4 linked regions of the Homo sapiens genome follow. The protein of the gene in region 4 interacts with the protein of the main gene of each other region in a biochemical or structural test. Each region holds a gene or a part of one and is shown on either strand. Other genes may lie near its edges. The genes, in order: WRNIP1, THAP12, TRIM40 and RIGI.

Region 1 (7,036 bases), on a different chromosome or scaffold from region 4:
TGTGTCTAACTTGATGCATATCCCTGGTTGAAACTTCTACACAGCAGTTATCACCCTGACCATGAAATGTTCCTTTTCCTTAGTGGAAGAGATTTGTGGGGTTTGGTTTGTAATTTAGAGAGGGAGAGTTTAACCAAGCCATGCATATTCTTTCATTCTGCCTTGAAATAACAGGTACATTTTTACTTACTGCACTCCTTCTCCAACTTACATATCCAGCTGTCTAAGTAGTATCCTCCAAATTCCAGTATTACCCAATGTGTAGAAAGCTTCAGGATTTAGGCACCTGGAAGAGGAAAGAAGAGAGCTTCCTATATTCTTCTGTTAAAATTAAAGCCCTTCTCATCAGTTGGAGAAGCCAAGCTCTCTTAAGTCTGTTTCTATCTCTAGGTTTTGTTAACTAGAAATAGAATCTTTTCCAATGCATTTATTTTAACCAATTTTCCCTTATTATAAATAGTGTTTTATTATAACAACATAATTTACTTCCTATTGTTTATTTCCATGTAGGATGTTATGACATTTTGGGCAGTCTATCCCCAGAATAGATTTTACCTCTTTTTATTGTATTCTACCTTTGGAAGGTTATTTTTAAGTGCAAAACACTTTATAAATATATGCTTAATTTTAATATATGCTTAAATTTAAAAATAATTGTAAATTCTCTAGACTGGGAACACTCTTTCAAAATAGTTTGTGCCGCAGTTTGCTGAGGGATTTTGCCAATATCAATACAACTATCCCTTCATCATTCTTGGCATGAGTTCTCTCATGGGCTTCCCATTCTAAGATCTCAGGGTATTTTAGTATATCTTACTTCGTTCTTCAGAACTTAGTAAATGGGAGTTCAAGATATATTGGGTGTTTAAGTGGAACCTTTCCCTGCTCAGTCGTCTTCACAGTGAATCTCCATTTTGTAATTTTCTTGTGTGATCATTGTGAGTGCTGTCAGCAGGTCCTGTATTACTTGGACAGAGTTGCCGACAGATTGATCTGGGCCTCGAAATACTTTCTTCTTTTGGACGGGGTGAAATTTAAAATGTGGATTATACCCAAGGGGAGGAAGAAGAAGGGAGTGGCGCGAGCTCAGGTAGCTTTCGTTGTGGCAGCACCTCCATTCCCCATGACTCCAAACCAGAAGTGTGGAACCACTTGTACTTTGGTCAGGAGTTTAAAAGCCAAAGGAAGACCTTATTTTCCAACCACATAAAATACATAATCATTGCTAAAGACTTATTCACAGCATACTGTTGATAAATCAATGGAGTAGACGGCTAGCTGGCTTCTGTCCTAATTAATAAGGCCTGCCTCCCTGTCTGTATATGAGGACTAATGGAAATGAGGCAGTTTATACTAGTAAATACCATGGTATATAAGGCTGCCCATCTCGTCACTGTCCAAAGAGCATGCCATGCCCCTAAATACATACAAAAGACAAATTCATGGAGAAGGGATACATACCAAAATACTAACGTCAAGGTAGTCTAGCAGAAGGTGAATTTTCTCCCTTTGTCTATTTTTAAAATTTAATGTAAATTTTTTTAAAGTAAATGTTGACAGGTCTGAGTAGCTTGTTTTTCAAACAATTATTTAATGGTTAAGGATGTAAAACTATGTAAAATATGGTCCCAGTTTTTGTTTTAGGTTAGCTGTAAGGTTGATGGTTGCATGGGTGAGTGGATCGTAAAGTCAGCACTTGGCACAGTAGCTTTCATTCTGCTGGAAATATCAAGTACATTTTTATCTCTCAGTGCTGGAAATATGGATTCTTTTTGTTTTCTCTATACTTTCCATATAATTTATAAGAAGTAAAGGTTTCACTCTGAGATTATGATAAAACTGAAGTTAGTCCATTCATTTTGCAAATATTGGATGCCTATCATCTACCAGGTCTGGGAATACAAAGAATAAAATATTCCTCTCCTTGAGGTGCTCCGCATAGTAGGGATGATGAATGTAATGTAATCAACACACAATCCAACCCATGGTGCAGGATATAGGCTAGTTCAGTCCGTTAGGATCCAATGGGGCTCCTGCTTTGACTCCTTTTTCTTCCCTCAATTGTCCTGAAGGCTTTTTGTTGCTAGGCAGCTTTCCAAGGAGAGAGAATCCATTGTTTTTACTAGTTCTGAGGCAGAAATGAGATGCCCAAGCAGTTTCTGTTCTCCCTACCTGTCTTCCCACACAGGTTGAGTGCAGTAAGGGGCTGAGAGTGCACCCTTCCCTCTCAGGCATGTCACGTACTGCTACACCCCTGTGATGCTGGTCCTTCCCCATACATTTTCTTTAGTATATGTTCTGTCCATCATTATCTTCTAAATCATCTTCCAGAAGACTTGCTAACTAATTTCTGGTTGAGCAGTGATCCCCAGGCTTTATAGAGTGCCAGTGACATGGCCTCGGTGTTTGTTTTTTTGTTGTTCTGGTGAGGTCTGCTGAGAGAATGCTACCATCAGGAGAGAGGAAGATGGGTCTCCAGGCTGCACCACTGGCTCTGGGGCCCAGGCAGTTGGCATGAGTGAGGAGAGAGTCATTTGTTGTAAAGCTGGGGCTGGCCAGTTGTCTTAGGTGTGGTGAGAGACCCACAAGGAATAACTGGAAATCAACTTTGGTAAATATGGGGGTGAGATGAGGCATCTTTAAGGCATTGGGAACAAATCCTTCCGTGAATGAAATGCAGATTGGTGTTATTTGGGTTACTCAGTGAGCAGAGTAGTGTCAGTGAGTGGGTGTATGCTGAGGAGTTCTGCATTGATCCAGCAGGCAAGCTGGGTCCCCTTCGGAAACTGCCACCCCTCCCCGGCCCAGCCCCGTTGGTGCCTGTACATTGTTTTCCAGGTAGCTGATTCGGACAGTCCTAATGGGCTTATTATTTACTGTAGATGTTCTCAGCTGAATGTTGATGACATGGGTGAACTGTAACTGAAAAATTTTATTTTTTTGCTTCACAAATGTGCAGCTAGCAGCTCAGCCAGGAATAAGACCCCACTAAGTTATGAAATGTGTTAGATGTCTTGTTTAACTCAACTAGGGATAGAAAATTTTACTGAGTCAGCCTTCTGATCATAGTTAGATCTTATTTATGAGGGTCCAAATTTAGAAATGTGACTGTAAGTTTTAGTCCTGATGTTCAGAGAGAGGTTAGGTGGCTTACCCAGGGTCTCATGGCTATGTACCAGCAGTCTTCTCGTCGCTTCCCAGGCTAATGACCTCTCTGCTACCCTGTGCGGATTTTGCATGATTAGTGTCCACTATGAGATGACCTACTGCAGCATCCCAAGATTCCCCAGGCCAAGAGAATCCTGAGACCTGCTTCTAGGACCTGCTGTGCTCAGAGTAACTAGGGACCCAATTTGTTGTTTTTAAAATGAAGGAATTGAACTGCATGATCTGGAGCCCTTCAGAGCTAATATTCAGATATAATGCTGACTCTCCCCTGTGTGGAAAGTGGTCTAAGCACATCTGTCTCATCGGATGTAGGCTGCATTTGGAACATGTTTTCCATACACGGTAATGAGGTGCTAGCATTTCTAATAAAGTTTTCACTGTTGTGCAGGGTAGAACCAGAGAGACCACCTGTCAACAGTGACTTTCCAGGCCAGTCAGTGTCTGTTTCACACAGACTTAGATGTATGAACCTATGCAGTGAGATACCCTCGACACTCATAAGATACAGGGCGATAACCTGGTGACTTAGGAGCCCCAGTCAGTTCGTAGTCTTGATGATGCTTAAGCACATTGACAAAGGTGAGAATAAGAGGCAAAGGCCTTGAACTCTTCAGTGTCCTTGCTGAGAAGTATGAGTTTCTAAGACATGTGCAGAACAAGAAGTATGCAGCCTGAGTGTGACCGTAACTAACCCTGCTTGTGTTTCAGGCCCGCCATGTTCATAGAGGATAAAGCAGTAGACACCCTGGCTTACCTCAGTGACGGTGACGCCCGAGCTGGGTTGAACGGACTGCAGCTGGCGGTGCTGGCTAGGTTAAGCTCTAGGAAGATGTTCTGTAAGAAGAGTGGGCAATCCTATTCTCCCAGTAGAGTTCTGATCACAGAGAATGACGTGAAGGAGGGCCTACAGCGATCCCACATTTTATATGACCGGGCAGGTAAGTAATTCACCTGTGGAAAGAGTGAAACCATACGGAAAGAAGTGTGTGCACACATTCTCATTTCCGGAAGCCTGACTGGGTTCCGGAAGCATTCCAGCTGGGTCCAGAGCATTCCAGTGATTCTCAGGTGGATCTGCATGTTGGTATTAAGCCTTCTACACAGGGCTGACCTTTCCGAAGAGAGGCATGAAGCAGAAGCTGCCCTGTTGAGAATCTAGAGGAGTTTTGGGGTTGGAAATGGCAGGCTGCACATTCACCTTAGAAGGTAGTTGGCTATTCCCCACCTTGCAGAATACAATCACCTTTGAAAGCCTGTGCATTCACTTGACAATGAATATGTTTTGTGATCATTTACAACGGCAGTAAATAAAAAGAGGACTTTTGTCATAATGACTTATTAGTTTTAATTGAGAATTAAAATGCTTTATTTCTAGAGTCTATACTAAAAAATAGTCATGGATCTTGAAGTTTTTATTTTATGTAGTAGCTTTTTCAAAAATTTAATTTTGCTGTGTGCACTTATCTGTTTTTGTAGAACTGCATTTACAGATAGCAGATTTGATACCAGCTCTTATTAAATCTGTGACTTAGCAATATTAAATGTCATTAGCACAGCACATTTGCATCTTTTTATAAAAGAAGTGGGAGATGAATATAACATACTGTAGATTAGCAAACTTCTGCTGCTTGAGCATTTGTGGGACTTTGGATGGAATCATGTTGCAGTAACTGTGGAATATAATTTCCACACTTTTCAAAGCTCTGCCAGAAAAGGAGGCTGATAATTGAATGTTCCTGATCTCACGTAGGCTGTGCCACGTGACAATGGAGAGTCCTTACTGGTTAGAGAAGGGGTGGAGGGGCTTAAGAATGACTTTGGTTCCAAGCGCTGCCTCTTCGTGGGTGAGCACACTCGCTGCATGACCTAGGGGGGCTGACCAAAGCTTTTTGGCTTTAGCGTGCCTCAGCTGATGGTAGCTCAGGGGTGTTCATTAGTGCTAAGGACACACTGGCAAGTTGAATAAATAATCCTGTCTACATTGTGACGTGAATGTGCCTCAGCGGGGCCTGCTCAGATGGCTGGCTCTCCCTAGTGCTCTGGAGCATGACGTGAATGCTTGCAAAGTCTGAAAAGCAACACATTCTAGGTGTGTAGAGCCCTGCTTGACTTTTGGTCAAATAGAAAAAATGTAGATATGAACAAGAAAAAAGATTTTAAGACATTAAAAAAATCTCACCATGCCGGGATCGCCATTGTTTCTGAAGTGCAGCAGCAGCGGTCTCTCTCTCTCTTCTTGTAGGTGTCCCAAAGGATTTGCCTTGTTTTGATTGGAACGACTAGGACTGTTCTTTGACATTTTATCAGACTGTCACTTGAGATCCATATAACATGGCATTCACTAACACTCAGCCATTGAGTATTTTATAGGTGTATTCATTTTTTAAATTCTCAAAATTGCTTTATGGAGATAGCTATTAATATTACCCCCATTTTAAGATAACAAAGCAAGTGGTGAAACTGACCCGTAAATCCAGGTCTTACTGGTTCCCAAGACTGTCCTTCCCCCCGTCCGCATTTGCCTCCACACCAGCCTTGCCATGCTGTTACTGATCTCACCCATTACATCATGCTCCTGAGAGGGGTCACCCGTCCATGCACATACAGAGCGGATCTTGGAGGGGTTCAGTCCTAGGAATCCCACTTCCTGAGCTCCACGTTGCAGAGCTCTGCACAGTGGGGATCACCTTGTCTATAGCTTGGAGCTGGGGGGTGGTGGAGGCTGCCTAGTGCCGCTGCCTAGTGCCAGCGCCTTAAGAACCCCACATCCTATACATCTTCCCAGTATGAGTGTGTTTACACACCCCACCCCAGTGCAACATGTCTGCCCCACAGTGGATCCGCAGACACATAAATATCATTCAGATCTTGGAGAAAGCTGCTTTTACAGGCTTTGCTCTATAAATAGGGATAGTGGAAGCATTGCCCTGGAAACCTGTTAGCTTATACTCTTGGGCCTTTTTATAACTCCAGTGAGACAAAGACCCACCCCCAGAGTTGTGATTATTTTTGTATATGCCACCTAGTTCATAGTTACCCACTAGTAGGATCCAGTGATGTTTCTGCATCAGAGTGAAGGAATTTCTAAATGAGAGCAAACTCTCTGCCATGCATTGACATCGGGGTTCTATAGAAGTCGTCAGATTTCAGGTTATAAAGCAGTGTGTAATAAAAGCAAACATGGAAGGTAGCATAGAATAATACTAGTATCTATCACTGATGCAAAAGAATCTTTTTACAGTGCCTGCTCTGTGCCAGGCGTGTGTTATTTAATACAGCCCTGTGAGGTAAGTGGTCTCGTTTTTCCCATTTTACAGATGAGAAACCTGAGGCACAGTGAGGATCAGGAACTTGCCCATGGCCCATGAGCTTGGGGGTCCAGCCCAGGCTGTTTGGTCCCAGAGCCTGTGCTCTTGTCCATTATACTGGTGGTATTGCCCCTGGCATTGACAAAGTGGGAAAAGATGACTAACCTGTGTAGGGGGAGTTTAAATTTGACATAAAGTGGTGTGGGTAGTTTCTTCCAGCCCCCATGCCCGTGAGTTTAGCCAGGCCTGTTACCTGCTACCCTCTTCCCCGCCTTCCTCCACCCTGCAGAGGAGCAGAGCGTAGCCTGAGTGCCTGGGCCAGCAGGGTGAGGGAGTGGGCCAGAACCATGCAGATGTCATCCAGGACACCCTCTCGGCCAGTGTCCATAGCACTCTGACTTCACCAGGGGAGCCCTGCACAGGAGACACTCAGTTTGTTCTCAGAAATCCAGTAGCTGGGCTGACCCATCCATCTGCCCTGGCTCTCAGAAACCAGAATCACTCAGGCTGAGCCGTGGGTCCTGCAGGTCTTTCCCCTGTGGGAGGCCAGCATCTTCGCT
Region 2 (7,584 bases), on a different chromosome or scaffold from region 4:
CAGACAATTTCCTTACTCAGCAGCTGAAGCGGGGAGCTGAAAGAAGGATCCAAAAAATCAGAGAAGAGTTGTAAGTTAAGTGGAAAACCATGACCCAAAGGTCAATACAAGGATCAGCACACCAAAGTGACCAAAAGCAGCTACTGAAGATGTGACCCAGGACCAGAAAACAAAGCAACAAGGAAAGAGAGGAGTAAGAGCAAACTGTGAAGAATAAACTGAGAGGTGTCTGAAGATAGTCAAGGACAAGAGCCTGGGGTGTGACGGACACATAGCTGGATGTGTGAGACTACGGGACCAGGAGCTCAAGAGGCCTAGGCAGCAAGGTGCAGGCCAGGGCAAAACGTGCATCAGCAATAAAATAGATTTGGTGGGTGGACACATTAGGAGTACTCATATAAGAACTTTCCTATTTGGAGATGCCCAGATCATGCTCTACCCTTGGGTTTAGAAATTCTGAGCAGCCAAATGTGAATGGTTTGCTCTGGATAAGTCCTTTTCATTATAGCCAATTGGAACCATTTGAATTCACACTCCTAATTACCTGCTTCTGGTTGCTGTGTCTAAACCATGTCTGGACCAACATAGCTTCTGGTACTCTACACTCCACCATGGGTCTTGGTCCAGCATCACTGGCAGGGACATACCAGCCCTGTTCATAGGACTGGAATAAAATCCAGAAGTAAGTTGTCTCAGGACCTCTGTTTAATAACAGGTTAGAAACAACTCCTGTAGGTATGGTTGTGGGATCCTGGCCTGGGACCAGGAGCATATAAATCTGCAACAATTACCACTGGGTAGGCCTTAGCAAGGATTACTATGAGGTTCAGCAACAAAGCTGCAAGAACTAGTGGTGGGGACTTTGTTCCTAAAGTGCAGTGTCCCTGGTGCCAAGTGCTTGTGGGCAACCTAGAGCCGCATCTGATGTAGGAAGACTTCATTGTCCTGAAATGGAATGTCTAGAAACTGTTAAGGAGCTGGAGGTCTATAAGCTGTTGTTTGGTTTAAGAGTTTTCTTACACAGTATCTTCTCTTTGTGGGACAACGTCTAGCTTTCAAGGTGTCTCAAAACTAACAGGTGTTGACCCGGCGTGGTGGCTCACGCCTGTAATCCCAGCACTTTGGGACGCCGAGGTGGGTGGATCACCTGAGGTCAGAAGTTCAAGACCAGCCTGGCCAACATGGTGAAACCCCGCCTCTACTAAAAATACAAAAAATAGCCGGGTGTAGCAGCATGCACCTGTAATCCCAGCTACTCAGGAGGCTGAGTCAGGAGAAACACTTGAACCTGGGAGGCGGAGGTTGTAGTGAGCTGAGATCGTGCCACTGCACTCCAGCCTGGGCAGCAGAGCAAGACTCCATCTCAAAAAACAAAACAAAACAAAAACAGGTGTTAATGAGGAACTTGTAATTTTTGGAGGTGAGTAGAGAAAGTGAAAGAACAGCACTAAAAGTAACTGTGATGAATGAGTGTTGTGCCTCTACTATCAAGCAATATTGTTTAAGAGGAGCTGTTATATCTAAAAATCCTTGAGTAAAACAAAGACTGGCCAATTCTGTGAAATGCTATTACCAAACCCCTGCCCCCTGAATGTTTCCAGTCTATGTGGTATTACTTGGAACCCACTTGGGAAAAGTTCCATTCCATAAATCCTGGCAGAGGCAGGAAGAGAAGAGACAGAGTTTGAACTTGCAGAAACTGCTTGTCGGGGTCCAAATGGAAAATCAGATATCAAATTGGTTGTTACAAACCTATTCACAGACTCAGGGGAAGCAATTTAACAACAAGTGGCATAGAGTTGGAGGCTTAGGAGAGAAAGCAAATTATCCCAAATTGTTCATCTGCTGCAACACCATTATCTTCCTCTTTAAACTTTGTTATTTTAGCCAATAGTGTCATCATTTTCTAATTCCTTTTTTTTTTTTTTGGGACAGAGTCTAGCTCTGTCGCCAGGTTGGAGTACAGTGGCGCAATCTCCACTCACTGCAACCTCTGCCTTCCGGGTTCAACAGATTCTCCTGCCTCAGCCTCCTGAGTAGTTGGGACTACAGGTGTGCACCACCACGCCCAGCTAATTTTTGTATTTTTAGTAGAGACGGGGTTTCACCATGTTGGCCAGGATGGTCTCGATCTCTTGACCTTGTGATCCACCCACCTCAGTCTCCCAAAGTGCTGGGATTACAGGCGTGATTCACCACACCTGGCCAGTGTCATTTTCTACTGATGCAGGTTGGAAGCCTCATGCTGTTCCACCTGCCCCGGAAGCTTTCCCTAATTTCACAGCCCTGTCTCACCCATCCTCATGGATCCAGTTCAAGAACCATCTCATCCATGAAGCCCATCAGCCCTTGGAGATCTTGTTCATAACCTCCACATTGTCAATGCCCAGCAGTGTCCTAAAAACAGCAAGTTCTCAAAACTATAGGCATTAGTTACTAAAAACAGGCTGCTGTGTGGGAATCCGCACATAGGCAGCAGGCTCCCTTAATTCAGGGACTAGAGAGCCACCTGGTCTTCCTCCCCACACAACACAGCCTTGCCTGGGTCCCCGGGTTTATATTTTCTAGCACCAGATCCTCCTCTTCCAACAGGGGTGATACCCAAATGAGTGGAGGTCCAAAGCATAGGACTAGAATGAAACAAACCCAGCTCTTCTGTGAGGTGTAGGCCTGTGAGAAGATCAGTATTGGTGGCCAACCCCTGATTCCTAAGGGTGCCTACTGAGTCATCTGGGCCAGATCAGCCCCTAGGCCCAGCACTGTTCAGTAATACCAGCATGCTACTACCTTCTGTACCATACCTCAGGCCCTGACTGCAAAGCAGGCTGAAACTGTAAGCCTTCTTTTGGGGTCCTCCCAGAAAAGCATGCTTCCCTGGGCACAGAGATACAGATTCCAGGAGATCCTGTTCCTCTCTTCTCACTGGCATGATCCTCTGAGGCAGAAGGTTGAGAACAAAGGAACAGGACAGCCACAACAAGCTAAGGTCTGGGCAGAGAAGAAATCCAAACTTGTTGAGCAAAAGAAATCAAGAACAAGCAAATACCAGAAGGGAACAGCCAAAAGTTTTTCAAAGTTATGGAGAACAGCAAGGAAAATGGTCCAAGAGTCCAGCAAAGAGTAATGAGGAGGGCCATGGCACATAGGGAGGAGTGGTGAAGACTGAAAAATACGTGAGCAGCCAAAGAAGGTGCCTAACAGTGAGGCAGCATCCTAGTTCTGGTTCAGCTAACTCACATTCCTCTCACCATGGGGTGAACCAATTCTCAGCTACCCTGGGGGGAAGGCTTGTTGAAGATGACGCCTGCAGAAGCTGACTGGCAGAGTAGTGGACTCTGGGATGGGATACCGGCAGGGGCATTTCCCCACCAGCTTCACCCTGGAGATAACTCCATGTTTCAGAACCTGTTACCTTTTTCCTCAAACATGAGCTATTTTTCCTAGTTTCCTTTGAAAGATCGGACCGAAAGTCAAGTTTTCGTGGTTTAGGCTCACCCTTCAAAACACCCGAAATAACTTTTGCAGAAATCTTCCTCATGTTCAAGTTTTCTTTCAAAATGAGCCTAACAGTTTCTTTGTCTAAATTTAACTCTTCAGCCATCATCCTCACGGTTAACTGCCTGTTTGAACAAACCAAGTCCTTGACCTTCTGGATATTGTCATCTGTTCGGTGGGTGACTGGACGCCCACTTCGGGCATCATCTCGAACATCTTCCCGTCCTTCTTTAAACCTTTTGTGCCAGTCAAAAACTCTGGCCCTTGACATGACTTCATCCCCATAAGCTTCTTTTAAAAGATGGTGGGTCTCACTTGCAGACTTGTTCAATTTCACGCAAAATTTGATACTAATCCTTTGTTCTAAATAGCGGTCACTCATTCTGGCACTGAACAACACAGGAACGTTTAACAGGCCACGACTGTAAGGGAAAGACGGACAGATCAATCTTTATAGGGCTGCAGGTGTAATCATATCGCTCTTCTTGCTCTTCTAGAAGCCTCGCCGGGAAAGAGTAATTGCTTTTATGAATTTTTGTCCCTCAGCTTCCAGTCGAGGCTGGGGAGATCCGTTCTGGGAAGCCAACAGTCGCTGCAAAGCTGGGAAAAATTAAATCGCCTACAACCACGTCTGCATCAAACCAGTGCACGCACATCTGCCGAGAGTTTGCCAGTCACCAAGGTCGCTCCGATTCCGCGGCCCTTAAGGAGTATATGGCGAATTCTGCAAGAAAGGCCTAAGTGGTGGCAAATTAAGCAAGCAAGAAGAGATGCATCGGTGATGTAACGTGCAAGCTCGCCCTAGATCTGCAGAAACCCGCGCACGCCAAACCTACCGGAGCAGCCCAGGAACCGCCTGCTCTAGCGTCCCGGGAGACAGGCGCGCATGCGCAATTCTCTCTCCCCGCGGATTAGACTGTGCGCAGTCGCACTGCGGCGGCGCGCGCCAGGTCCCGCCTCCGCCTCGCCACACCCCGGCAGGCGCGCTTCCTTGCGCGTGCCCGCCTGCTGAGAAGGCGGAAAGGAGGGGCGGGGGAGGAAGGCTGAGGGAAGAGAGGGCACCCCCGGGCGTCAGGGTGCATTGTGGGAAGGAGGCGGCAGCGTCTCGGGCGGGCGGGAGGTGCACCAGCGGCGGCGGCGGCGGTAAATCCTCCCGGCCGCTCACAGCACTGTGGAGCCGCGTCCCCAGCCCGGCCTCGGACCGCGGCACCCCTCCTGGCCCTCGCGGCTTCTAGCCCGCCCGCCCCTCCCCCGCGCGTCGGCCCTGCCGAGCCGGCCGGCCGGCCTGGCTCCCCTCCCCGGCCCCGACGGGCGGGCGGACTGCCCTGAGGAGGCGGGGAGGGGAGGGCTGGGCCGGCCGGCGGGCGGGCGACGATGCCGAACTTCTGCGCTGCCCCCAACTGCACGCGGAAGAGCACGCAGTCCGACTTGGCCTTCTTCAGGTTCCCGCGGGACCCTGCCAGGTAAGCGGCGGGCGCAGAGCGGGCGGCCCGGGCCCACCTTCGCGGTGAGCGCTGCCAGCCGCCGGCCCCTGGCGGGCTCCCGGGCTGGCTGAGAGGGGCGCAGGAGGCGGGCGCAGCGCACTGCCGTCGACCCCAGCGTTGGACCGAGATGGGGAGCCGGCCCCGAGCCGTGGGCGGGCGGGCGTCCGGGGACCTCGGAGCACGTGCGCTGGTGGGGGCTCTGCGCGGAGGACACCACCCCAAACGCGAGGGAGCTGGGGCGGCGCGCGGACGCGGGATGCTGTGGGTTCTCGCCGTGGCTCACTTGCTGTGTGACCTCGGGGGAGTCGCTTTCCTCTCTGGGCGTTAGTTTCCTTAGCTGTCAAAAGAGAGCAGGACTCTATGGTTGTGGCCACTGGGGCCTTTCCCTCTCCTTGCCACCACCCCCGGGACAGTGTTTCTGTTTTGAGTCCCGCTACCTTCTTTCATCTCATCGCAACTGCTTTCTCCTTCGGACTTGTCATTGCACGGTTCAGGATTCATTTTCTGGCTGTCACCGTTACTCATTTTCTCGCTTGGGTATTGTAGGGATAACAGAGGGTGTACGCGTGAGGGCGTGGAAATTGGTATTGGAACCTCTTCCTTCGGATAACCCCCACACACTGACATATTTAGGGAATGATAGCATAGGGACTGTGTTTGAAAGGCTGAGATGTTTCATAGGCCTGTCTTGTTGGTTCATTCATTTAAAATCAATGCCTACTATGTGCCGAGCGCAAATGTTAGGTGCTGGGAGTTCATGGGTGAATAAGGGTGTCACTGCTTGCAGAAAGCTCTCAGTCCAGTAAGGGAACAGGTGCAGCAACGGGCGACTATAATTTATGTTATTTATTAATTAGTTCAATTAATTATTGAAGGTCTACTTGTGTTGGCATTGTTGTGAGCAGTGGGGGTTACAGATGAACAAATCGAAGTCCTTGCTTTCATGAAGATTACATTCTAATGGGGGGGGAATAAACAAGTAAAATACGTAGTGTGTCGGATGATGATAAATACTGTGGAGAAAAATAAACAAAGGTTAGAGGGTAGGGGAATAAGTAGTATCAAGGGACGCACAATTGCTATTTTAAATACAGTGATTAGAGAAGGCCTCACTAAGAAGGTGAATTTGAGCAAAGACCAGGTGAAGGGGCCAGCCATGGAGATACCTTGGGCAGCAGCATTCCAAAGAAGGCAAAGACAGGGCAACCAGGAGTCCAGGGAGAGGGACTGGGAGAGAGGTGAGATGAGACCAGAAAGGTGTGTGTATGGTAGGGGCAAATTCTTTAGGTAGGACCTTGTAGGTCTTGGAAGGCACTATGGTTTTTATTATGAGTGAAATAGGAAGTCATTGAAGGGTTTAGAGCAGAGACTTAAATTTTAACAGGATCAGTGGCTGCTCATTAGATTGTGGGGAGGCAAAGGTGAAAGCCGGAAGACCAGTTAAAAGGCTGTTGTAATAATCCAGATTAATAGAGGAGGAGATGGTAAATTTGAGATATGGTTTGAAGGTGAAGCCAACATCATTTGCTAATGGTTTGGAGGTAGATTGTAAAAGAAAAAGAGAACTTAAGGACGACTTCAAGATTTTAAAAATCTATGTTGGCCAGGTTGGTCTTGAACTCCTGGCTTCAAGCAGTCCTCCTGTGTCGGTCTCCCAAAGTGCTAGAACAGGCTCTGAGCCACCGCGCCCAGCCGACTTCAAGATTTTTAACGTGAGCATTTGCTGAGATAGGGAAGACTGGGAAGAGCAGGTTTGGTAGAGGAATACTAGAAGTTTGGGTTTGAGAGACCTGATAGACATTCAAGAATAGATGTCTAGGCCGGGCATGGTGGCTCACACCTGTAATCCCAGCACTTTGGGAGGCCTAAGCAGGCGGATCACTTGAGGTCAGGAGTTCGAGACCAGCCTGGCCAACATAGGGAAACCCTGTCTCTATTAAAAAATACAAAAATTAGCTGAGCCCAGTGGTGCGTGCCTGTCCAGCTACTCAGGAGGCCAAGACGTGAGAATCGCTTGAACCCAGGAGGCAGAGGTTGCAGTGAGCCGAGATCGTGCCACTGCACTCCAGTCAGGGTGACAGAACAAGACTCCGTCTCAAGAAAGAAAGAATAGATGAAAAAAAAAAAAGAATAGATGTCTTTCTTCATACCATATACAGAAATGAACTCCAAATGGCCTATACTTTTATTGAGATCAAAGGCCTAAATATAAGAGCTATGTCATTAAACTTTTAGGAAAAAAATACAGATAAATCTTCATGACTTTAGATTTGGCAGCACATTCTTGTTTGTTTTTTGTTTTTTTTGAGAGTCTCACTCTGTTGCCCAGGCTGCAGTGCAGTGGCACAGTCTCAGCTCACTGCAACCTCTGCCACCGATGTTCACAAACTATTCTACTCACTCAGCCTCCCAGGTAGCTGGGATTGCAGGCATCCGCCACCATGCCTGGCTAATTTTTGTATTTTTTTTTAGTCAAGACGGGGTTTCGCCATGTTGGCCAGGCTGGTCTCGAACTCCTGATCTCAGGTGATCTGCCCGCCTTGGCCTCCCAAAGTGCTGGGATTACAGGTGTAAGCCACCGTGCTTGGCTGGCACCACATTCTTA
Region 3 (3,125 bases), on a different chromosome or scaffold from region 4:
GGAAGGACTCCCTGGAGTGTTCTCAGGAGCCCTTACTTAACTATTCTGGACATCTGTCTGTCCCTGGAACAGCCTGATGTGGGCAGATGGTCGTGGAGGCTGAAAACCCGGGTGTTGGCCTTGGCGTCAAAGTTTGCTGGTTGAGTGACCTACGCAAGTTAAGCCCTCTGATCTTTATGTGACTTACATGTTAAATGAGAACCAGTCCTGCTCTGCCTGGATCACAGTAGGGATCAAAGGAGACCAGTGTCTCGTCAACTGAAAATTACTACACAAGCCATAGGCCTCTGTTTCTTTTTATTTTATTTTATTTTTTTTTTGAGATGGAGCCTTGCTCTGTCGCCCAGGCTGGAGTGCAGTGGCACGAACTCCGCTCACTGCAAGCTCCGCCTCCCGGGTTCACGCCATTCTCCTGCCTCAGCCTCCCGAGTACTGGGACTACAGGCACTTGCCACCACGCCCAGCTAATTTTTTCTATATTTTAGTAGAGATGGGGTTTCACCATGTTAGCCAGGATGGTCTCGATCTCCTGACCTCGTGATCCGCCCGCCTTGGCCTCCCAAAGTGCTGGGATTACAGGTGTGAGCCACCGTGCCCGGCCGCCATAGGCCTCCATTTCTGTCTCTGACAGTCTACCTTTCTATTCCTCTTGGTCACATGGCATCTGTAGATATTCAGAGAGTGAGGTGGAAAGGTGAGGTGTCCCTGCCTTTATGAGAATCAAAGCTGCTTCTGCTATACCTGTGACACACAGAGGCAACACCATGAGGGCAAGAGGACTGAGGAATCAGCATTCCTGCTCAGACATTCAGAGACTGTGAAGGGCCAGGAGGGAGCCACCTGACACTGAGTCTTAGGGAGCCCCTTTCCTGTAGTTTCAGGTAGACCACGGGAACCACAGGCTGGAGGCTGGGCCGGAGAGCCAGCACCAAACCAGGGAACAGCTGGGTGCCCTCCCTCAGCAGTGGCTGGGCCAGCTGGAGCACATGCCAGCAGAAGCGGCCAGAATCCTTGACATCTCCAGGGCAGTAACACAGCTCAGAAGCCTGGTCATTGATCTGGAAAGGACGGCCAAGGAATTAGACACCAACACACTGAAGGTGCATACCCTGAGGCCTTCCCCAAGGGCTGGGATTCTCCCCGATAGGAGGCAGCCCATCTGCATCACCCTTCTGGGAGGTGTAAGAGGGAGGGGCCTGTGTGATATGTGGTGACTTGTGGTAGATGTGGCTTGTTCCAGGCTACAGAGTGCTGCTGCAGCAGAATGGGCACAGAAGAGGGGTGTTGCTATGTTCCCCCAGTTCTCAAGGTGGCACCCCAGAGTGGCCTCCAAGAGTGAATTGGGAAAGGAATTTGGAGGTGATAGGAACCTGAGAACCAATTATGATTCTCACTTTTTCTCTCTCCTAGAATGCTGGTGACTTACTGAACAGGTACGAGCTGTCCCTTCTTCTTTCCCACATGTGCATATAAACCCACACAACACAGACATGCACAGAGGTCAAGGAGACCCACTGCTCCGTTAGCTTTTGTATCTTGATGCTACATGGCCAATGGAAGAGCCAATGGAATATATGAATACATATTAATCTATGAAAGATTTCTTTGTTTCTAGGAGTGCTCCACAGAAATTAGAGGTTATTTATCCCCAGTTGGAGAAAGGAGTCAGTGAATTGCTTCTTCAGCCCCCTCAGAAGCTCTGACCTGTTCATCCCTGGGACACCTCACTTCAGGCTCACCTCAGCCTCCTCTCTCTCCTTCCTCCAACCTGTCCAGGCCCCCACTGGGTCTACCCAGTGCATCTTCGGGCCTGCCAGCTCCTGAACATGTCACCATTTCTTCATGTCCACAGTCATCACCTGATGCCTGACCCTCTGACTCTTGGACGATAGCCAGCCTCCTTCCAGGACAGGCTCATGCTTGGGGCTGCCACTGTGGAGGTCGGGGCCCATGGTCTCCAGGAGCATTTGTGAAATCTCCATTTTGCCTGTAAACTGATGGTAGTGCCCATCTCTCACAATCTCATTCAAATAGGATCCTCCAGGCCTCTGAATGGCCCGAGCTCATCAGCAGTGACACCACCTCACATGTGGAGCCCAGCTGAGTTCCTGCAGTACTTGTTGTCTGTACCACTCACCTGGCACTTATTTATTATTGTTGTGGAAGACAGACTCAAAGACAGCCTCCCTTCATGATCCTCACCTCTTGGAATTCATGCCCTTGTTTGGTCCCCTCCCCTTGAGTGTAAGTGGGATCTGTGACTTGCTTCTAATGAATGGAATAAGGCAAAGGTGATAGGGTGTCACTCTGGCAACTGTGTTGCATTGTATAGAACTCCTCCTTGCTGGCCCACCCTTTTAGAGCCCCTCCTAGGAGCCAAGAGCAGCTTCCAGCCAACAACAAGCAGAGGCCCTCAGTCTTGTGGCTGCAAGAACCTGAATTCTGCCAACAACCCGAGTGAGCTTGGAAGCAGATTCTTCCCCAACTGAGCCGGATAAGAACCTAGTCCAGCCAACACCTTGATTATAGTCTTGTGAGTACCTAAGCTGAGGACCCAGTGAAGCTGTGCCAAAATTTCCCACCCACAGAAACAGTGTGACAATAAATGTGTGTGTGTTTTTTTGTTTTCTGTTTTCGTTTTTGAGATGGAGTCTCACTCTGTTGCCCAGGCTGGAATGCGGTGGTGTGATGTCGGCTCACTGTAACCTCTGTCTCCTAGGTTCAAGCAATTCTCCTGCCTCAGCCTCCCTAATAGCTAGGGATTATAGGCGCCCGCCACCACACCCGGCTAATTTTTTGTGTTTTTAGTAGAGACAGGGTTTAACCATGTTGGCCAGGCTGGCCTTGAACTTCTGACCTCAGGTGATCAGCCCACCTTGGCCTCCCAAAATGCTGGGATTACAGGTGTGAGCCACCGCGCCTGGCCATGTGTTGTTATAAGGCAGTAAATTTGTGGTAATTTTTGTGGAGTAATGGATAATGAATACAATTGTATATTAGTCATTTTTGTATAAGCCTCACTTCTTTGGGTGAGCAGGGATCATATTCTGTCTGTGTCCTCATGTCTAGAACAGTGTCTGGCTCATAGCTGGTGTCCAGTAAAATTTTAAATGTATGTATAAGTG
Region 4 (7,036 bases):
AAAAACAGAAAATAATGCATATAGGTGAGGATGTGGAGAAACTGCAACCCTGTGCCTGATTGGTAGGATTGTAAAATGGTGTTAACAGCCATGGAAAACAGTATGGCAGTCCCTCAAAAAATTGAAAATATATATCACCATATGATCCAGCAATTCTGCTTCTGGTGTATTTCCAAAAGAATTGAAAGCAAGGTATTGATGAGATATTTGCACATCCATGTTGATAGTAGCATTATTCGTGATAGCTTACAAGGTAGAAGCAACTCAAATGTCCATCAGTGATGAATGGATCAACAAAATGTGATATACACATACAATGGAATATTATTCAGCCTTAAAAAAAAAAGGAAATCCTGGCACATCCTGCAAAATGGACATACATTGAGGGTGCTGTGCTGAGTGAAATAAGCCAGTCACAAAAAGACAAATATTGTATTTTGCCACCTATATAGATTATCTAAAGTAGTCAGATTCATAGAAACAGAAAGAGTGGTGGTTACCAGGAGCAGGGGTGAGGAGAGAAAAAGGAATAGTTGTTTCATAGAGTTTTAGATTTGCAAGGTGAAAAAGGTCTGGATTTTTTTTTTATAACAAAATGAATTTAACACGACTGAACTGTACATTTAAAAATAGTTAAGATGGTAAATGTTTTATCTGTTTTTTACTACAATTTTAAAAAAGAATGAGGTTGAACATCTTATGTATGTTTCTTGGCCATTAGTATTTTTCTCTGAACTTTCTAAATATGATTTTTAAATAAATATCTTTTAAAGGCATGTAGAATAATATTAAGTAAATTTCCCATTTACTTAATATTATCTTAGAAAAATTAGAAGGAAAGTTCCTTGTGGGCAGGAATTAAGGTTTATATTTCTTTTTGCCTTCTTTACTGCTTTCCACTGAGAAGATACTTAATAAACCTGTTGACTCTGACTTTTTAAAGACAAATCAGGGATTGTAGGTGAAGTCTATGAGTCACTTTGGAAGAAAGATTTTATACTAAGATCAAAATGTAAGACTTCAAAGTTTTCCTTAGTACTTTTTCCCAATAGATAATAAATATTGCTAGAAGACCTAAAGTGTTGGCTGACTAAAATGAATACTGTTTTCTTTTTGAAAAATCAATGACAATTGGGGGTAATTTACAGATATTTTTTGAATTCTACCACCATACATTCAAACATGATTTCTATGATACTAATCTCAAAGTATTTTTCAGTTGGTTTCATAAAAGTCCACATTTTTTTTCTTTTTTTTCAGGTTATTCTGGACTTTATGAAGCCATTGAAAGTTGGGATTTCAAAAAAATTGAAAAGTTGGAGGAGTATAGATTACTTTTAAAACGTTTACAACCAGAATTTAAAACCAGAATTATCCCAACCGATATCATTTCTGATCTGTCTGAATGTTTAATTAATCAGGAATGTGAAGAAATTCTACAGGTAAGTTAATATAAAATACTAAAATTGGGGGAAATAATTATAACATGGGAAGGTCTTCTGTTTTCTATACTGTTTTAGACCTGAGAAAGATCATTGAAACCCACAAAAGTACTCATAGAATAGTACTTTTTTTTTTTTGAGACGGAGTCTCGCTCTGTCGCCCAGGCTGGAGTGCAATGGTGTGATCTCGGCTCATTGCAACCTCCGCCTCCTGAGTTCAACCAATTCTCCTGCCTCGCCTCTCGAGTAGCTGGGATTACAGGTGCGTGCTACCATGCCCAGCTAATTTTTGTATTTTTAGTAGAGATGGGGTTTCACCATGTTGGTCAGGCTGGTCTCGAACTCCTGACCTCGTGATCCACCCGCCTTGGCCTCTCAAAGTGCTGGGATTACAGGCGTGAGCCACCGTGCTCAGCCAGAATAGTACTTTTAATGTGAACTGAGTAATTTTTATGTCACAAAGTTTTTTTGAAGTTTGCCCTATTTTCAGTTAAAATCACCACAGTCTGTGAATAGTATTTTATGCAAATTTAAATTGAACAGTTGAGCAAATGAGAAAGGGCTACAGACTCTAGCAGTTAAGTGTTTAGACTCTGGACACAGATGAATTTTGTTAGAATCATAGCTCAACCACTAGCGGTATGATCTTGGGCAAGTTACTTAGTTTCTCTGAATATCTATCTGTTTCCTTGTGTGTAAAATGGAAATAATAATGTTACCTTATAATATGGTATTTTCATAAGGGTAATGAGATAATATATGTAAAGTACTCATGTATGTCTTGCACAGAGTATGTGTACAATAAACTTTAGTTATTATGGTTAGTAAAAGTCATACAAATTCCTCAACCCTGAAGAAAAATTTGTTAATATTTTGTTATCTGTTTCCAAATATTGCTATATGCCAATATACCCATATTGGGAATGGTTGTCAAATGATTATTTTCTTAATATTGCTGATGAGGATAGGTATAAGAACTTAGAGGTGATGAGAAGGCTTGGCTTGACATAGTGACATCATGTGTAAAGGACAAAGATGAAGGAAAAAGTATCTTAAAAGACTGTGTTGGATGGGGCAAAAATTGTCATGGATATGACCCACTGAGCTGTAATGTACAATGGCTTTAAATCAGATAGTACATGACTGACATTTCTTCAGTAAAAATTGATAAAGGGAAAACTTTTGAGATAATTGATCAATAAACTACAGTTACCTTGCTTAGATTTGCTCTACTAAGGGGATGATGGCAGGTGCAGAGAAATTGGTGGAATGCCTTCTCAGATCAGACAAGGAAAACTGGCCCAAAACTTTGAAACTTGCTTTGGAGAAAGAAAGGAACAAGTTCAGTGAACTGTGGATTGTAGAGAAAGGTAAGACACTGTACCCTCCTCACAGCTCTACTTAGGACTCGCTCATTCCAACCGGTCTTTTACATCCCATCAGAGGCGTTTTTCCCCTCAGATAGCCAGAGCTACATCTCTAACGCGAGACCAGCAGGAAGCTGGATTCTGGGAGGGAGGCAGTTACTTGCCTACAAAATTAGTTTGGTTGCATATAACCCCTAAAAATGGACTGGGGAAAACCACTCTCATCCAGAATTAGCCCATCTGGCCCAAAGGATTTGAGGAAGGCAAAATCCGAACTCTCAGTCTAAGTTTAGATTATCAGAGAAATAGCTTGAGAATTCTAGAGTTAAAGGTTCAAACTCCAGGACTTACCCCCTTTTCAGAGTTGATTTCTTGACAGACATTGCCTGGTTCTCTTACTGGAAGCCATCTGGAACTGAATCCGACGGGTGAAAGAATTGGTTGTCATTAAGTGTCTGAACTATCATTTGGTTTCTTGAAGCTGACACTCAGCATTGTTTCAAAGGCTGAGTTTGGTAAACATCTGAATATCTGGTCTTAGCTTTCCTAGGCTTCTTTAGATCATAAGTTGTTTCAGAAACTGTATAAATACACATCTGATTTAATGGGTCAAGAGTCAGTCAGAAAAGGAAGACATGAATGTCTGCTAAATCATGCTCTTTTTTTTTTTTTTTTTTTTTGGTGCATACGAATCCCTCCGAGGTCTTGTTAAAATGTGGATTCTGATTCAGTAGGGCAATACGTTCCACACTTTGAGTAATATAGCTCTAAATTACATTGGAGGTCAACGCCAAATTGAGATTTTAAACTCAAAATGATTCTTTCAACTGTTTTAAAAGGTGAAGGGGAGTGGTTGTGAGAAATTTTAATAGAAGTTAAAAATCTTAGTGTTATGACCATTTTGTGGAGCTTTCACCATCAAAACTATAATCAGATTATGTGAAGATTCTAAGACTTTTTTGGTCTTAAAAAGGTATAAAAGATGTTGAAACAGAAGATCTTGAGGATAAGATGGAAACTTCTGACATACAGATTTTCTACCAAGAAGATCCAGAATGCCAGAATCTTAGTGAGAATTCATGTCCACCTTCAGGTACCTGGTATTGTTTGTCCTTTTCCATAATGGTGCTCTTCTGGTATTTGGTGTGGGGGCTTGTTTTGCAGTACCCAAAGTCACAGCCTTGTGAAAAGTTTTGTAAGGAAAATTAAGAAAGTAAAGAGAATTTATGTTACAATAGATACTTTTTCTATATTTAGAATGCCATTCTCTCCTAGTTCTTCCACTATCTTTTTTTCTTCTTTTACTATCTTTTTTTTCTTCTTCTACCACTAAGAAAGTATGGGCGTGTCTATATTGGAAATGCAAATAGAGTCTTCACCAAAACCCAATGTCTATGAATTCCCAAATCAACCTTGCTTTCTAAATAAATACTACTTCTATTTCTGAGTCACTTGCTCAATTTCCTTTTAGGATCCCTGGGCTGCCCTGCAAGTTGATGAAGTTAGTGTGCTACCCAAATGCGCCTGGCTGAGAGGTTGAGTAGGGGCTGAGATCCAGCCTGTGTCGTTTGCAACACAGTGCACTGAGGGGCTGTGTCCTCCAAGAGGAGCTCCCTTTTGTCATTTACACAAAGGCACTGTATAAGTTAGCTGTGGCCCTGTGAGGCCCCCTTATGCTTCTCAAAGCATATTTTCTTGATGGTTTTATGAGACCGGCAAGTTGCATAATATGCCATAATAAAAAGTTATGTATAAAAGAGTATCAGGAAGGAAATTGGGATTAATAGTGGTGGTAGAAGAAAAATGATATTAGAATAACATCATAAAGAGAAAATGTGCAGATTACGTCTGCAACTGAATGTTACAAGTTTTTTTGTTTTGTTTTGTTTTTTTGGTCATTTCAGAATAAAATCTGTTACCCCTTGGAAAAAAAAAACAGATACATGAATATGAGTTGCTTTAAATTTTCTGACACGTGAAGATTCTTGCATGCCTTTTGTTGTTGTTGTTGTTATTGTTTTTTGAGACTGAGTCTCTCGCTCTGTTGCTCAGGCTGGCGTGCAGTGGCACAATCTCAGCTCACTGCAACCTTGGGTTCAAGTGATTCTCCTGCCTCAGTCTCCCAAGTAGCTGGGACCACAGGCATGTGCCACCACATCTGGTTAATTTTTGTATTTTTTTTGGAGAGGTGGGGATTTCAGCATGTCGGCCAGGCTGTTCTTGAACTCCTGACCTCAAGTGATCCATCCACCTCAGCCTCCCAAGTGCTGGGATTACAGGCATGAGCCACTGCACCTGGCCTTTACATGTCTTTCGTGTGAGTTTAATTCACTTAACCTTTTAGAAATTCTCCCTTTCTCTAAAATGGGTAGGTTAGACTCAGTAGATAATTTCCAAAGTCTTTGCTAGCTCTTAATGATTTATATGCCTACCTGTTATTGAGATAAAGCCTTTGATTATTTTTTAAAACTTCTGGTTATGTTGAGAGAAAATATCATTTGAGAACTTGAAGAACGACAAAGCATTATTGCTCCTTAATAAGAAATTGCTTTGAGAATCCAATGTTAACAGTTTGGTTTTCTTCAAAGATCGTGGGAGGATTTGTTGCTTTTTTCACATACAGCATTGCCTTTAGTAGACAGCTTGTCTTACCCTGAATGGGGCCATTCTTTCTTTGGTTTCTGTTAGCCTTCCATGATTGTATAAAAAATAATTCATGTTTTTTTTTTTTTCTTTCTTGCCATCAATACTTTGTCACTGAGAGAATTCTGTACTTCAAATTAGTGGAAAAGCTAGAATGGTTACCAAGAGAAAGGATTCTAAACTTTCTCCAATGAGGATCTTCTTGCTGGAGTCAGAATTTGTGGACATTAGACTGTAGCTATTGCCGTGATTCCTCAGAGCAGGAACTGTTTGGTAATTTTGCTCCTTTTGTATTCCAGAAGTGTCTGATACAAACTTGTACAGCCCATTTAAACCAAGAAATTACCAATTAGAGCTTGCTTTGCCTGCTATGAAAGGAAAAAACACAATAATATGTGCTCCTACAGGTAAGCCTATTGCCATTACTTACATAGTTTTTCTGTTTGCTTCCTTTTTTTTCTTTTGTTGAATACTGGGACAGAATGGGCAAGTTTCAGTTTTTTCCTTGTTCCATGTGTCTTTTGAGAAAACTGTCCTAATATAATCCTAATGTTTTTTATGGGATTATGTAATTAATTAATTATGTACATTAATGTATTTAATGTATTTTCTTTACCTTTCATGAGAAGGTAAAGAAAAGTGTCCTCTTTTAGCTTGCTTTTGGGTCCTGGCTGTTGGCATGCTACTTAGGGAGCAGCTTGATATTTTTTAGTCATAGTGTAAATTCTGTAATCATTAACATATTTAAATTATCAATTAATTAGTCAGCTCAGTGGTATTAGAAGAGCCAAAAATAAACACCTTTCCAGAGAAATATCTAATATATGAGTTACATGTTTTCTTTTTTCCTTACATGTTAAAAGGTTGTGGAAAAACCTTTGTTTCACTGCTTATATGTGAACATCATCTTAAAAAATTCCCACAAGGACAAAAGGGGAAAGTTGTCTTTTTTGCGAATCAGATCCCAGTGTATGAACAGCAGAAATCTGTATTCTCAAAATACTTTGAAAGACATGGGTAGGTATAATAGTTGCTTCAACTTCTTTTTCTCCAGCTTCATGTAATTGATGTGTTTTCTGTTTTGTTTTTGACAAATGATTTAAAAAAATTTATATTAGATTCAGCTTTTTTATAATCCAGATGTTATCCCTTCATGGATTCAAGTCTTTTTTGTTAGATGTACCAGAAAACTTAAACTCCCCTGGTTTGCCCTTCTATGGGGAGTAAATGACTTCAGGAATAAATTTGATGTTTACGTGGCACATTTAACTTCTTTAGTGATTTTATAATTTATTTGATATTATTCTTTTACGTACTCTTTTCTCTCTTAGTGACTTAAAATAATATATAGTACTATAAATTACAACTAGCTTGGATTTATTGATCTCTTACTATGTGTCAGGCTCTGTGCTAAGGACTTGCCTACAGCTATTCTTCTTTTGGACTCAGGGAGAATTTAATCAGTTGATGTTCTGATCTAGCATTTCATCTTTGTGGTTCCTTATCCACATCGTGGTTAGTAATATGGAATTTCTGTCATTTCCCAGGTATAGAGTTACAGGCATTTCTGGAGCAACAGCTGAG

What was found.
Region 1: the proteins of RIGI (region 4) and WRNIP1 form a complex in vitro, tested with the Homo sapiens proteins (one study listed by BioGRID).
Region 2: the proteins of RIGI (region 4) and THAP12 form a complex in vitro, tested with the Homo sapiens proteins (one study listed by BioGRID).
Region 3: of the proteins of RIGI (region 4) and TRIM40, one has a biochemical effect on the other in vitro, tested with the Homo sapiens proteins (one study listed by BioGRID).

What each region holds. Positions count from the first base shown.
Region 1 is NC_000006.12:2,775,387-2,782,422, forward strand, and holds part of WRNIP1 (ATPase WRNIP1), read left to right. Parts: intron 1-3,876; coding exon 3,877-4,106; intron 4,107-7,036. UniProt on the Homo sapiens protein: Functions as a modulator of initiation or reinitiation events during DNA polymerase delta-mediated DNA synthesis. In the presence of ATP, stimulation of DNA polymerase delta-mediated DNA synthesis is decreased.
Region 2 is NC_000011.10:76,378,122-76,385,705, reverse strand, and holds the start of THAP12 (52 kDa repressor of the inhibitor of the protein kinase), read left to right. Parts: upstream 1-4,573; 5' UTR 4,574-4,869; coding exon 4,870-4,958; intron 4,959-7,584. Other genes in the region: protein GVQW3, read right to left, coding at 3,496-3,877. UniProt on the Homo sapiens protein: Upstream regulator of interferon-induced serine/threonine protein kinase R (PKR). May block the PKR-inhibitory function of DNAJC3, resulting in restoration of kinase activity and suppression of cell growth.
Region 3 is NC_000006.12:30,146,110-30,149,234, forward strand, and holds the end of TRIM40 (E3 ubiquitin ligase TRIM40), read left to right. Parts: intron 1-875; coding exon 876-1,100; intron 1,101-1,410; coding exon 1,411-1,433; intron 1,434-1,615; coding exon 1,616-1,703; 3' UTR 1,704-2,619; downstream 2,620-3,125. UniProt on the Homo sapiens protein: E3 ubiquitin-protein ligase that plays a role in the limitation of the innate immune response. Mediates inhibition of the RLR signaling pathway by ubiquitinating RIGI and IFIH1 receptors, leading to their proteasomal degradation.
Region 4 is NC_000009.12:32,488,167-32,495,202, reverse strand, and holds part of RIGI (antiviral innate immune response receptor RIG-I), read left to right. Parts: intron 1-1,260; coding exon 1,261-1,442; intron 1,443-2,651; exon of another isoform or gene 2,652-2,664; coding exon 2,665-2,812; intron 2,813-3,782; coding exon 3,783-3,902; intron 3,903-5,751; coding exon 5,752-5,859; intron 5,860-6,315; coding exon 6,316-6,469; intron 6,470-6,999; coding exon 7,000-7,036.